Regions from separate parts of the Homo sapiens genome. Here all the other regions are reported to be linked to region 4. Evidence: microRNA targets listed by miRTarBase, many of them from high-throughput screens and not tested one by one. Region 4 holds a microRNA gene; each other region holds the end of a gene's coding sequence.
Evidence for each region. The annotated mature microRNA hsa-miR-3065-3p reads UCAGCACCAGGAUAUUGUUGGAG and lies in region 4 at 2,244-2,266, opposite strand. An mRNA with a match to its seed (bases 2 to 7 or 8) in the 3' UTR can be bound and repressed. Matches are read on the target gene's strand: a 7mer-m8 pairs with bases 2 to 8, a 7mer-A1 pairs with bases 2 to 7 and ends in A, and an 8mer does both.

Region 1 (3,599 bases), not on the chromosome of region 4:
ACGGGGCTGACCATGACCTGGGCCGCCTGCACCCTTGTGTGATGGCCTCCTTGAGGGCCCAGAGCCCCATCCCCAACCTCTATCTGACAGGTATACTCACTGCCCCATGTTGTCAGGACCTGAGACCCTGGGCCCCTGTCGCCCAACGTCCTCTGTTCCTGCCCTCAGGCCCTGCTGTCCCCTGCAGCCTCCCATCCCCTGAGCAGGGCTGCCTGGGCAGGCTGTGGCCCCTGTCTGATTGGAGCCAGCTCTGGGTGGCCCTCATGTGGAGGGAAGAGCACCAAGGCCCCACCCTCCCCTGGGCCTGCCTGGGTGCACGCTCAGGGGCCTCTGCTCTTGCCTCCTAGGCCAGGATATCTTCACCTGTGGACTGGTCGGGGCCCTGCAAGGTGCCCTGCTGTGCAGCAGCGCCATCCTGAAGCGGAACTTGTACTCAGACCTTAAGAATCTTGATTCTAGGATCCGGGCACAGAAGAAAAAGAATTAGTTCCATCAGGGAGGAGTCAGAGGAATTTGCCCAATGGCTGGGGCATCTCCCTTGACTTACCCATAATGTCTTTCTGCATTAGTTCCTTGCACGTATAAAGCACTCTAATTTGGTTCTGATGCCTGAAGAGAGGCCTAGTTTAAATCACAATTCCGAATCTGGGGCAATGGAATCACTGCTTCCAGCTGGGGCAGGTGAGATCTTTACGCCTTTTATAACATGCCATCCCTACTAATAGGATATTGACTTGGATAGCTTGATGTCTCATGACGAGCGGCGCTCTGCATCCCTCACCCATGCCTCCTAACTCAGTGATCAAAGCGAATATTCCATCTGTGGATAGAACCCCTGGCAGTGTTGTCAGCTCAACCTGGTGGGTTCAGTTCTGTCCTGAGGCTTCTGCTCTCATTCATTTAGTGCTACGCTGCACAGTTCTACACTGTCAAGGGAAAAGGGAGACTAATGAGGCTTAACTCAAAACCTGGGCGTGGTTTTGGTTGCCATTCCATAGGTTTGGAGAGCTCTAGATCTCTTTTGTGCTGGGTTCAGTGGCTCTTCAGGGGACAGGAAATGCCTGTGTCTGGCCAGTGTGGTTCTGGAGCTTTGGGGTAACAGCAGGATCCATCAGTTAGTAGGGTGCATGTCAGATGATCATATCCAATTCATATGGAAGTCCCGGGTCTGTCTTCCTTATCATCGGGGTGGCAGCTGGTTCTCAATGTGCCAGCAGGGACTCAGTACCTGAGCCTCAATCAAGCCTTATCCACCAAATACACAGGGAAGGGTGATGCAGGGAAGGGTGACATCAGGAGTCAGGGCATGGACTGGTAAGATGAATACTTTGCTGGGCTGAAGCAGGCTGCAGGGCATTCCAGCCAAGGGCACAGCAGGGGACAGTGCAGGGAGGTGTGGGGTAAGGGAGGGAAGTCACATCAGAAAAGGGAAAGCCACGGAATGTGTGTGAAGCCCAGAAATGGCATTTGCAGTTAATTAGCACATGTGAGGGTTAGACAGGTAGGTGAATGCAAGCTCAAGGTTTGGAAAAATGACTTTTCAGTTATGTCTTTGGTATCAGACATACGAAAGGTCTCTTTGTAGTTCGTGTTAATGTAACATTAATAAATTTATTGATTCCATTGCTTTAACATTTGAAATTTATTTTGGTTTTTTGTTCAAGAAAACAAAACTATTATTGTGATGGCATTTGCAGAAGCTCAGTAAAACACTATATACTGAATAACACCAAAATAAGCTTTAAAAAAATAAAATTAAGTAATTATAAAGTTACAAAAAGTGGGGTCTGCGCCTTCCCAGGCCAGTGTGCTGAGCTCTCCATGTCGCTGTTGCCGCCCGCACCTGGCCTACCGCGGCACTCCCGGCTGCATGCTCTGCTTGGCCTTGCCATGCCGGTGGACCTCAGCAAGTGGTCCGGGCCCTTGAGCCTGCGAGAAATGGACGAGCGGTCACAGCACCTGCTGCATGTCACCTACGCCCGGGCGGTGGTGGACGAGCTGGGCAAAGTGCTGACGCCCACCCAGGTTAAGAATAGACCCACCAGCATTTAGTGGGATGGTCTTGATTCAGGGAAGCTCTACACCTTGGTCCTGACAGACCCTGATGCTCCCAGCAGGAAGGATCCCAAATACAGAGAATGGCATCATTTCCTGGTGGTCAACATGAAGGGCAATGACATCAGCAGTGACACACTCCTCTCCGATTATGTGGGCTCGGGGCCTCCCAAGGGCACAGGTCTCCACCGCTATGTCTGGCTGGTTTATGAGCAGGACAGGCCACTAAAGTGTGACGAGCCCATCCTCAGCAACCGATCTGGAGACCACCGTGGCAAATTTGAGGTGGTGTCCTTCCGTAAAAAGTACGAGCTCGGGGCCCCGGTGGCTGGCACGTGTTACCAGGCTGAGTGGGACGACTATGTGCCCAAACTGTACGAGCAACTCTCTGGGAACTAGTGGGTTAGCTTGGGGACCTGAACTGTTCTGGAGGCCCCAAGCCATGTTCCCCAGTTCAGTGTTGCATGTATAATAGGTTTCTCCTCTTCCTGCCCCCCTTGGCACAGGTGAGACCTGACCAGTCAGATGGTGGTTGAGGGTGACTTTTCCTGCTGCCTGGCCTTTATAATTTTACTCACTCACTCTGATTTATGTTTTGATCAAATTTGAACTTCATTTTGGGGGATATTTTGGTACTGTGATGGGGTCATCAAATTGTTAATCTGAAAATAGCAACCCAGAATGTAAAAAAGAAAAAACTAGGGGGAAAAAACCAGGTCTACAGTGATAGAGCAAAGCATCAAAGAATCTTTAAGGAAGGTTTTAAAAAAAAAAAGATTGGTTGCCTCTGCCTTTGTGATCCTGAGTCCAGAATGGTACACAATGTGTTTTTATGGTGATGTCACTCACCTAGACAACCAGAGGCTGGCATTGAGGCTAACCCCCAACACGGTGCATCTCAGATGCCTCAATAGGCATCAGTATGTCGCTCTGGTCCCTTTAAAGAGCAATCCTGGAAGAAGCAGGAGGGAGAGTGGCGCTGCTGTTGTTGGGACATGGCCATCTAGACCGGCAGCAGCGCTCGCTGACAGCTTGGGAGGAAACCTTAGATCGGTGTTTGTTAAACTGATCATTCTTCACGGGAGTAAGAAAAGCTGGTCTGGAGTTGCTGAACATTGCATTAATTGTGCTGTTTGCTTATAGTTGAATAAAAATAGAAACCTGAATGAAAAAAAAAGTTACAAAAAGTGGCCATCTACCGACTGGGCAAACAAAAAAGAACAGTTTCAACACTCAGTCATTTATTGCACATGGAGTCTGATGAATTAAAAGAATACCAATCAGAGTGTCCGGGGCTGGCGTGTTGGCAGTTTGAAGTACCATACAGCTCAGGGCTGGGTGCTTTGGCTCATGCCTGTAATCCCAGCACTCTGGGAGGCCAAGGCAGGTAGATTGCTTGAGCTCAGGAGTTCAAGACCAGTCTGAGCAACATGGCAAGACCCTGTCTCTATAGAAAGTCCCCACCCCACCCCCAGAAAAATTAGCTGGGCATGGTGGTGTGCCCCTGTAGTCCCAGCTATTCAGGAGGCTGAGGTGGGAGGATC
Region 2 (3,000 bases), not on the chromosome of region 4:
TAAAGAAATGCTCTACTGAGGGCCGCTGCTAAGACCAGCAGTCCACTTATGTTATCGAGAAGTAGGAGACGGTGATTTCATTCTTTAAATGACACATGAGTTCAGGGAATGAGCTGCAGCAGGCTCAGGGCTGTGTGGGGAGAAAAGTCAGAGAAAGCACTGCAGACGCCTGTAAAGAAAATGTTTTATTTAAAGTGTTAAATACCATCACCAGAATGAATTTGATTTACATTAGTTGGTGTTCATTACAGGACTAATCTGCCCTTTTTTCCCAACTGGAATTCCCTTTACTTTTCAAACATACTATGTACAGGGCAACAACGGTCACTGGCATAGTGCTAGTTACATGACTAAACCACAAGTCGAGGTGCAGATGTGAAAATTAAAAAAAAACACCAACTTTTAAATAAATACTGCATAATGACAAGTATGTACAAATATTCCGTAGTCACGTCCTTCTTATTAAAATTAGAAATAATTTGTATAGGAATATGCACAAAAGATTATGTGACTGCATCTTAGTATCAGGAAAATCATAAACCTTTATTCTAAGGGATAGTATAGACACTATAGGTCTATTAAATCAATTGTTGCTGGTACACAGGTGTCTAAATTATTTTAATAAAGTTTTATTCGTTCTTTTAACAACTTTACCTGGGTCCATCAGAATGTCAAGACACAGTCTTGGTGTATTTCATATTGCACCACATAAAAAGAAGGCATTTTTAGTGATACTCATTTTAACTTTTGCACCGTATCAAGCATGATAGTTTTTAATGGTCAGCACTGAACTAAAAAAAATATTTGTGCATGGCCTTAATTTAAACAAATGAGATGTATGTGGATTTCAAAAATTAATGCAAAAAATTAAAATCAAGCTATAATAATGTGTTATCAAAATGTACATAAAGAACCATGGGTGGTTTATTACAATAACCAGTGACTTTTCCTCTAAATAGGGGAACTTAGGAGAAATTTGACCTTGCAGCTCCACCCAATGGTAATAACCGTCTGTAAAACCAAAGGCAGGGGTTTTGACTTTAGGAGATTTTCACATAGACTTTTGGTGATGGCATCAAATAACTATTAATAGGCATAATGACTTTCTTTGAGTCACCTAAAAACTGGAGCTTTAAAATTGTTGCAAATTTATGTTTACTATATTTCTTTAGAAATATAATTTGTGAAAAATTGAATTTTACTACAGAAAAATGAATTAATAAACAGCCCTGTGTTTCAGGGTTCCCAATTTTTAGCAGTGCTTCTATTCACATAGTAAATGGAAACTGGCTAAAGAAATTGCTTTAAATGATTAAAAAACAAACAAAACCTAAGACCTTCTACAAATAATACTTTAACCCCTGTATGAATAATGCTGGTGCTAAAAACAAATTTATTGGACATCACAATGGCAACATGATTTTAGAATTTTCCTGTAAACTGAATTTTAAAGGTGAAAAAATTACCATGCACTGTACAATAAACTGCAAAAGTTCAAATATCTTCTTCGTCAAATACATGCTGACTTACTTTAATGTACTCCCAAGTCATGTTGCAAAATCCTTTTCAACATGCTTGAAATAAAGAAAGCTCTTAAAGTTAATTTTCCCTTGAGAAATTCGCAAATTCAGAGGCATCTACAGCTCTGAATCAAACATGGGGTATGAGAGAGGATCAGATCAAAACTTGTAATTTTTTAGTATAAGGTTCACTCTGGCAGGGAGAAAGAAAAGTTTAAAAGAGGGAGAAGAGGTAAAGTGAGAGAAGGAGAAAGATGTGAAAAATTTGCACATATTGAACTTCATAAGATTTGTATATTTAACATGGAAATAAATTGAATATATTATACTTATTTGTCACATAAAGAGAATTTTAAGTATCTTCTAGAAAGTATTTCCATTTGTAATGTCTGCCAAAACACAGACTATGATTAAAGAATAAACATGGTGTATCTTTGTATCACCCTGTTGCATTCTCTCTCCTTTTTAAAACCATGCACTAGTGAAATTTATTTTTAAAAATAATATAAATTGTTGAAAATGGCTGATTTTTATTCTTTTTTTTTTTTTTGCAAGTTGCAGCCCCAAGAAAATAATTTAAGTATTCAGCTAATCTGTGTCCATGCAAAAAAAGTTTCTTTAATTTCATTCAGTACAGTGTAGCCACAGAATTTTGTTTTTCAGAGTCCAACACATCTTAGCATTAGTAATTGACGTGCCCATGGAGCTACAAAGTCTGCCACTCTTCCTGCTGGACTGACTGCTCTGATTCCCGCCCAGAGGAGGGCTGATGATTGTTCCTGACCACTTCTTTGGTCTCCTGCTTTTCACCTGATGCTTCCTAGGATTACACTCCTCACCTGTAACACCGCTTCATGGCTGTATAGCTCCATTTCTGTGGCATATCAGGGCTTTGGGGTTAGATAAATGAAGAAAAAGGAATGATAAAAATATAAAGGTGCCATTGAAAAGGGCTTCTGTTGCATGAAACTGACTGATTCTTTGAGATTAATCCATGGCTTCAGATTGGACCAGAACTCGAGTGTCATTGAATTCCAAATCTGATAGTTCTTCACAGCTCTGCTCTTTCACCTGAGGGCCTTCTTTAGGGCACAATGTGTGCAACTTCCTCTGAGAACACAGGATTGCTTTGTATCCCTAGAAACAGGCTCAGAAGACACAACATTAAGCATGCAGTGTTACCAGGGTTTGCAACCTGTGATTTTTTTTTTTTTTTTTGTAACGCTGGTTGCTGTGACAACAATTTTTTTACAGCTGCTATGAACGAGAGTAAGAAGGTCCAGTTGAACTTTCCAGAGATGATTGGGAAGCTCTTCTTGTCAGAGGGGCCAAGGTTGGATCTACTAGGGAGGAAGGTGGGAAAAGTTTGAACCATCCGATCACCATATTGGATAGCTCTAGTTCATCTAAAAGTATCTGGGCCACTCCCATAAAAGATTTGTGATCCATGCGGCCATAATCTCCCCAGACGATGATCTGT
Region 3 (3,723 bases), not on the chromosome of region 4:
ATGTCTCAAAAAAAAAAAGTAAAATTTAAATTATGTTTGGGTTTTGTGAGGTTATAAAGCATTCCTTTTAGACTTATAAAATGAAAGCTTATGTTTACACGTTTCATAGGACTGTTTTTAAAATTTATTTTAATGTTCTTTCTGCTGCTTTCATTTATCTCTTATTTTTGTCTTTTCCCATGTTCTAATCTACCTAAAGTTATAGCTATATTTAATATAGTGTTAATATTAAGTATTGTATTTAGGGAAATAACGGATACATATTGAAATAGGGATCGTATTACCTTATAGTAATCTAAAGAAATAGCAACTCTGCACCTGTGTAGTCTTACCATGTTAAAAGAACCAAATAATAAATCCATAAATATTTTTATAGAGAACATGTGGACCAGCAGTGCAGAGAAGCTGTTTAGGATTCTCAAAATTGTAATATAATTGATGCAGATAATGGAGATCTCATTTCCCTCCTTTGTTTTCCCTAAACAGTATAAAAGAAGCCTGTATTGTTTTGAATTTGAACGTCGGTTCTGCACTACTGCTGAAAGATGTACTGCAGTCAGCTTCAGGGCAGCTTCCTGCCACAGCAGCATTAAATGAAGTTGGAATTTACAAACTGGCTCAACAAGATGTTGAGATTCTACTTAATTTGAGGACAAATTGGCCTAATACTGGAAAATAATGTCTTTCAGAAAAAGGTTTCTTTGGTTTTTGTTTCTAAGAAAGAGGAAGCCAATTGGATTTCAAGTTATATGATGAAATTCTGAATTAATGAAACTGGAAAACTTTATAGAATTACTTATTATCTTGGATTTATGGTGTTATTAAAATGCTGACCATATTTCCTTCATCCTCTTGTTCCTAAGGAAACAAAAACAGAAAACGAAACAATGAAAACTCAATTCTATTTACAAGTATAAATGCTGAGTATGTCTGTTGAAGACGAGCAGAGATATTAAATTATAACCAACTTTCAATTTCCTGTGCTAATTAAGGGAAATTCTGTTGTGGATAATCAAACATAGCCAATAAATTTTTTTAAAACTCCCTTTGAATGCATATTTGTAATTGAGGCACCTGTATCTAGTTTGGGAATTAACTGTATTTCCATGAGGAAACTGGCAGGGCACAGTGTCTCATGCCTGTAATCCCAGCACTTTGGGAGGCTGAGGTAGGAGGATTGCTTGAGGCAGGAGTGCGAAAACATCCTGGCCAACATGTCAAGACCCTGATGCATGCCTGTAGTTCTAGCTACTTGGGAGGCTGAGGTGGGAGGCTAGCTTGAGCCCAGGAGGTCAAGACTACAGTGAGCTCTGATTGTGACACGGCACAGCAGCCTGGGCAAGCGAACAAGACCCTGTCTCTAAAGAACAAAACAAAACACATTGTGAGATGGTGAATAAGATAGGATTGTTCTTCATTTCTCACAAATGCCCTTCTATTTTAAATGCTTCCTAGTTTCATTCTGTGTGACAGTGGGCAACCCTTTCTTTCTGGATGAAACATTTCAGGCCATGGCACTCTGACTCAAACATTCCCATGTGGTAGGGAATGTAATTAAACATTTTTATTATTTATGTAACTTATGAGACAAAAGTCTCAAAAGTTTATTTTTTCTTGTAACTTTTCCTTGTCCTTGGGGTATATTCAATAATAGTTACTTGACTAATAAAATCTCAGAGTAAAACTCTTTAAAAAATTGAGCTAGATTCCCTGGAAACTTTCCACAACTATTAAATTTTATTCCAATGGTTTTTCTCTGACTTAGCAGTGGGTTAGTACTTTTAATCCTGTAATATCTCAAAATCTAAAATTATCAGACTAACATGCAGCCTATGCTTCTGATAAACATTTACTTTGTGATAATTTTGAGGAAATATTTTGAGATAGATTCTATTAGTATGTATTTTATAGAGAGAGTTTCCAGCTAGTGTGTTGAGCTCAAAATGTTTCTGTTTGTTAGTTGTCCTAGCATATTGGTGCTTCTTCACCTCATCCTTTGAGAATTGCTGGGGCTTCCTATTTAGAATGGAGCTGGCTGGGCACAGCCCATTACATGCCTGTAATCCCAGCACTTTGAGAGGCCGAGGCAGTGGATCACTTGAGATCAGGAGTTTGAGACCAGCCTGGCCAACATGATGAAACCCTGACTCTACTAAAAATACAAAAAAATTATCTGGATGTGGTGATGCGCATCTGTAAGCCCAGCTACTGGGAAGCTGAGGCAGGAGAATCGCTTGAACCCGGGAGGTGGAGGTTGCAGTGAGCCGACATATTGCCACTGCACTCCAGCCTGGGCAACAGAGCAAGACTCCATCTCAGGGAAAAAAAAAAAAAAAAAAAGAATGGAGCTGCCTCTGGAACTTCCTCTCTAACCCCAGCATTTTCCCTTCCTATTCCCAAGTTTAGGGACTTTACCGTCAGCCTTACCTGTCCTCACTTTCCAGTCAGCTGAAAGTTTCAAGGGAACAAAATATTTCTTTCAAAAGATAGGAACCTGTTTTAAAGGTATTAATTGTGCTTCAAAATCATGCCACCTTATTAAAATATTTGTCACTTAAAAATAAACTTACACTTCCTCCTTGAATTTATCCAAAGTTATTTTATGTCCATCATCTTGTAAATCTTCATCTTCAGTGCATAGACCCAGGGTTTTTAGGGCTGTAAAATAATGAGAAGAAATGAAGTGAGAATTTTACAAAGTGAGAAGTATTTTCTGCTAGAAAAAACTGTGGAATGACCACAAACTATTACCTCAATTTGTAGAATGTACTGACCTTCTTTATACTGCACAAATGATATGGTGCCTCTGCCTGAGGAGTCCATCATCTCAAACATAGCCACAATGTTAGAGTTATCCATAAAGAAAGGAAACGCCACGCCTGTTACTTTTGCAATTCTCAGTCGTTCCAATAGAGATATTAAATATTCTTTTGGTTTTTCTGCAAAAGAATAGTTCCAGCTCTTTCTGATACGAAATTAAAATATGTCGCAAATAGAAGTAGTCATTTAACAATTATTAAACAGCTATAGCAAAGGCACTGTACTAGGCGCTGGGGACACAGGCCTTAGTTTTCATAAACAGTCCAGCAAGAAGGTAAGACATTGAACACTTAAATAATTACATATACAAATGCCCTATCTCAGATGATAGAATAGAAAACTATAGAGACTGGACCTGGGCATTTTTTAGAAAAACTCCCCAAGTGACTATAAGTTGCAGACAGGGTTGAAAACCAAAAACATAGAGGGAACAGCATAATACAGGGAAGAAGTTGGCAACCTAAATAATTGATAAGATATAAATAATAGGCTGGGCATGGTGGTTCATGCCTGTAATCTCAGCACTTTGGGAGGCCGAGGAGGGCAGATCACCTGAGGTTGGGAGTTTGAGACCAGCCTGACCAACATGGAGAAATCCCATCTCTAGTAAAGTTAGCCAGGCGTGGTGGTGCATGCCTGTAATCCCAGCTACTCGGGAGGCTGAGGCAGGAGAATCGCTTGAACCCGGGAGGCAGAGGTTGCAGTGAGCCAAGATCACGCCACTGCACTCCAGCCTGGGCAACAGAGCAAGACTCTCTCAAAAAAAAAAAAAAAAAAAAAAAAAAAAAATATATATATATATATATATATATATATACACACACACACACATACATATACACATACACACACACATATATATAAATATAATAAAAACAAAGACTGATAAATATGGTCCTCCAG
Region 4 (3,565 bases):
CTGGGTCCCTCTTCCTCACTTCAAACCCCCAGAGAGAGAGAGAGAGAGGGCAGCGGGGGACCTTGTGGGGAGAGTAACACGAAAGACTCAGAATATTACAGCCAGAGGGTTGCCGGGAGGGATCCGGAAGCCATACCTCACGCTGCAATGAGTGGACGGGGCACAGGAGGAGAAGTGTCCTGTCCTGGGGGCCGGCGTGGGGCGGGTGGGAGAAGAGTAAGGCCTGGAAGCCGGGGCCGGTGGAGGCGGAGCAGCCGTGGGTGATGCTGTCTGTCCCACAGGTGTTCCTGGGGGAGGTGAACTCTGGCATCAGCAGTGCCCAGGTGGTGGTGAAGGAGCTGCAGGCTAGTGCCAGCGTGCAGGAGCAGATGCAGTTCCTGGAGGAGGTGCAGCCCTACAGGTGGGAGGCCACCGGGCACAAAGGCCTGTGCTGTGCGGCCCCCTCCTCTCCCTCCCCTGCTCGGCCCGACTCCCCCTCCCCACCTCCTCCCAAGTCAGGGGCCGCCTGTCCACTCCCGCAGGGCCCTGAAGCACAGCAACCTGCTCCAGTGCCTGGCCCAGTGCGCCGAGGTGACGCCCTACCTGCTGGTGATGGAGTTCTGCCCACTGGTGAGCTGCTGCCCGGGGGGATGCTGGGGTCTTTGCTGAGCCGGGGCCCTCCCTTGCCCTGCCAGTGTCTGGTGCCACCCCCTCCTTGGGGGCCTCACATCCTCCCTAAAGCCAAGACCCAGGGACCCTGCCCCCACCACCTTCCAGAGGAGGCGATGGGGAGACCTAGCCTCACCAGGGAGGGACTGTGGGGGCTGGGCACAGAACAGGCCTGGGCTGGGGCTCCCTGCACCCCTGGGGAGCTGCCAGCTGCTTGGTCACCTGCTTGTGTGCCCTGTGGTTCAGGAGGAGGCATCCTGGGCCAACTGGGGGGGGGCACTGGCCCACTTGGGCTCCACGGCCTCACTCAGGCTTGCTTTTGCCATGGGGGGCTGGGCCTGGCCACTTCCCCAGGCTGCCTGGAGTTCTGGGCCTGCCCATCAACGCCCCCCGCCCCGGGGACCTGTCCCCCCCTCCCCCTGAGACCTGCCCATCAACGCCCCCCTGCCCCGGGGACCCGTCTCCCCCTCCCCCGAGACCTGCCCCCCACCCCCTTCCACATATGCAGCTCCTGCACTGAGCCGAGGCTGTCTGTGGCTGGGCTGGATCCCCTGCTGGCTTCCCTCGGGACAGGGGCCCTCACACACTGGCGTCTGGACTCCTGACGTTGACCGTCCCGGGGCTGGGCTTTCGGCAGGTCAGGGGCTGCCGGCCAACCCTCGACCACCAGCCCCAGACTCCATCAAGCAGATCCACTTGGGCCCTGTGTTTCTCTCTCTACCACAGGCCAAGGGACTCCTGCTGCCCGGGGCTGGCTGAGGGGCAGTGGAGAGGAAGCCTTCAGTCCAGCCCAGCCCTGGGGGACACGGCCCCCCTCCAGGAACTGCTGGGTGCTGGCCACTGTGCAGGGCACGAGGCTGCTCTGGGCAGCTGCTGTCCCTCAGCTGTGGGTAGGGGTGGAGGAGTTGGGGAGGTAGGTGGGGACCTCCCAGGGTGGCCAGCCCCCAGCCTGCTGGTGACTGCGCCACACCCCCTTTCTGCAGGGGGACCTCAAGGGCTACCTGCGGAGCTGCCGGGTGGCGGAGTCCATGGCTCCCGACCCCCGGACCCTGCAGCGCATGGCCTGTGAGGTGGCCTGTGGCGTCCTGCACCTTCATCGCAACAATTTCGTGCACAGGTGAGGGCGGGCGCGGGCCAGCGGCCGGGAAGCCCTAGGCCAGGCCCCTCCCCTGAAGGAAGGGCATAGGGCGGGTCCTGCCTCAGGGGGCTTGCGAGGACCGGCCAGGTTCATCTCATGCAGCATCAGACAACCACTATGCAGAGGGATTTTATGACGTTTTTGAAAAATTGGGAAGACAATGGTTTGACACCCACTTTGCAGGTTTAGACGAAGAGATGCGTACTGTCAAGCTGGCCTGTTCTCTGTCCCCGAGGCAGTCAGCCAGCACCCTGCAGCCCCGCGCCAACCCCACACTCTGCTAAGCCCTCGCTTTGGGGCTTGAGGGAGACAGACCCTGCTTCGAAGGACCCTGGAGGGAGGGTTCTGTCCTGCTTGGGCCAGGATGCCCAGCCCCTGGGGACCCCGGGGGGACATGCTGGAAGAAGTGGCGAAGGACACGTGGCCCCGTCAGCCCCAGACGCCGCACGGCTGTCCTCTCCAACAATATCCTGGTGCTGAGTGATGACTCAGGCGACTCCAGCATCAGTGATTTTGTTGAAGAGGGCAGCTGCCAGCCTCCCGACCTGCCTGCCGGGCCCCAGCTGCCCTGCCCCCAACCCCAACCCACCCCACTCCACCCCCTAGGCCCAGGACACATGGCCCTGTAGCGATCCCCTGGCACGCAGACATGGGTTTTATGTGGGGAGGGACAGGCTGGGTTGGCCTCTGTCCCCACCCTGAGTCCTGAGCACAGAAGTAATACGGCAGCTGTGGTAATATCTACCCAGTACCCTGTGCCTCCTCACACCCACGTGACCAGCCAGGCAGGGTTCAAAGCCAGCAGCCAAGGCAGGCTGGGTTGGAGGTAGTGCCAGGCGTAACCTGCATTCTTTCCAGACCCTACCCAACCCTGGGGCCAGTGGTGGCTCAAGTGAGAGTGAGCTCCAGCTCTGAGTGGGCATGGCAGGGCTGGACCCTAAAACTGGACTCCGGCAGCCGGCAGGACCCCTGGGACACTCCAGGCCTCAGTTTCCCCATCAATTCCCACCTCCTGGGGAGCCGAGAGTGATAGTGTAGTAGAGCTAGGAGGAGAGGGTCCTGGAGAAGCGTGGACCGGTCCGGGTGGGTTCCGGCAGGTTCTCACCCTCTCTAGGCCCCATTCTCCTCTGCACTGTAACATTTGAGGCCCACGCACACAGTCCCTCCCCAGGTCTCAGGGTTGGGCACAGAGTAGGGCCCTGGGCAGGGATGGGGGGTGGCAGTGTCTCCAACGCCCCTTCCAGCCTGGACTGTGAGCCATCCAAGTGTTGGCAAAGGACCCTGTGCTGGATGCCCCCGCCCGGCACACCCCACTGACCCTCCCCCTGCCCCCACCCGGCACACCCTGCTCACCCTGCTCACCCTGCCCCTGCCCCTGCCCCTGCCTGCAGCGACCTGGCCCTGCGGAACTGCCTGCTCACGGCTGACCTGACGGTGAAGATTGGTGACTATGGCCTGGCTCACTGCAAGTACAGAGTGAGTGGGGTGGGGTGGGCTGGGCTGGGCATGAGGGGCAGGGCCTGCGCCGGCAGGGGTGACCCGTCCCTGTGCCAACAGGAGGACTACTTCGTGACTGCCGACCAGCTGTGGGTGCCTCTGCGCTGGATCGCGCCAGAGCTGGTGGACGAGGTGCATAGCAACCTGCTCGTCGTGGACCAGACCAAGAGCGGGAATGTGTGGTGAGTGCGGCCCTGGTGGCACCGTGAGGGGCCGAGGCCGAGTGCCACCTGCCCACCCATGTCAAATCATGGCCATGAGTAGTGAGGTCAGGGGGCTGCC

Region 1: the mRNA of RETSAT is a reported target of hsa-miR-3065-3p. The part of its 3' UTR that is shown has no 7-base or 8-base seed match.
Region 2: the mRNA of RIMS2 is a reported target of hsa-miR-3065-3p. Seed matches in the 3' UTR shown: 7mer-A1 at 781-787.
Region 3: miRTarBase lists RINT1 as a target of hsa-miR-3065-3p. The part of its 3' UTR that is shown has no 7-base or 8-base seed match.

The regions. Positions count from the first base shown.
Region 1 is chr2:85,340,130-85,343,728 of GRCh38, reverse strand. It overlaps RETSAT (retinol saturase), which reads left to right. Exons shown (of 11, transcript NM_017750.4): 10 at 1-90; 11 at 348-1,774. The coding sequence ends at 487. It also overlaps the pseudogene PEBP1P2. Among named protein-coding and RNA genes, the nearest start is that of RETSAT, 13 kb to the left of the region's middle.
Region 2 is chr8:104,251,598-104,254,597 of GRCh38, reverse strand. It overlaps RIMS2 (regulating synaptic membrane exocytosis 2), which reads right to left. Exons shown (of 30, transcript NM_001348484.3): 30 at 168-2,996. The coding sequence ends at 2,778. Among named protein-coding and RNA genes, the nearest start is that of DCSTAMP, 87 kb to the left of the region's middle.
Region 3 is chr7:105,566,633-105,570,355 of GRCh38, forward strand. It overlaps RINT1 (RAD50 interactor 1), which reads left to right. Exons shown (of 15, transcript NM_021930.6): 15 at 487-1,045. The coding sequence ends at 679. EFCAB10 (EF-hand calcium binding domain 10) reads right to left here. Exons shown (of 5, transcript NM_001355526.2): 2 at 2,775-2,939; 3 at 2,571-2,658; 4 at 835-858. Among named protein-coding and RNA genes, the nearest start is that of EFCAB10-AS1, 2.6 kb to the right of the region's middle.
Region 4 is chr17:81,124,627-81,128,191 of GRCh38, reverse strand. It overlaps MIR3065 (microRNA 3065), which reads right to left and starts at 2,315; the gene lies at 2,237-2,315. It overlaps AATK (apoptosis associated tyrosine kinase), which reads left to right. Exons shown (of 14, transcript NM_001080395.3): 5 at 282-400; 6 at 522-609; 7 at 1,632-1,765; 8 at 3,178-3,262; 9 at 3,344-3,465. MIR657 (microRNA 657) reads left to right here and starts at 2,819; the gene lies at 2,819-2,916. It overlaps MIR338 (microRNA 338), which reads left to right and starts at 2,243; the gene lies at 2,243-2,309.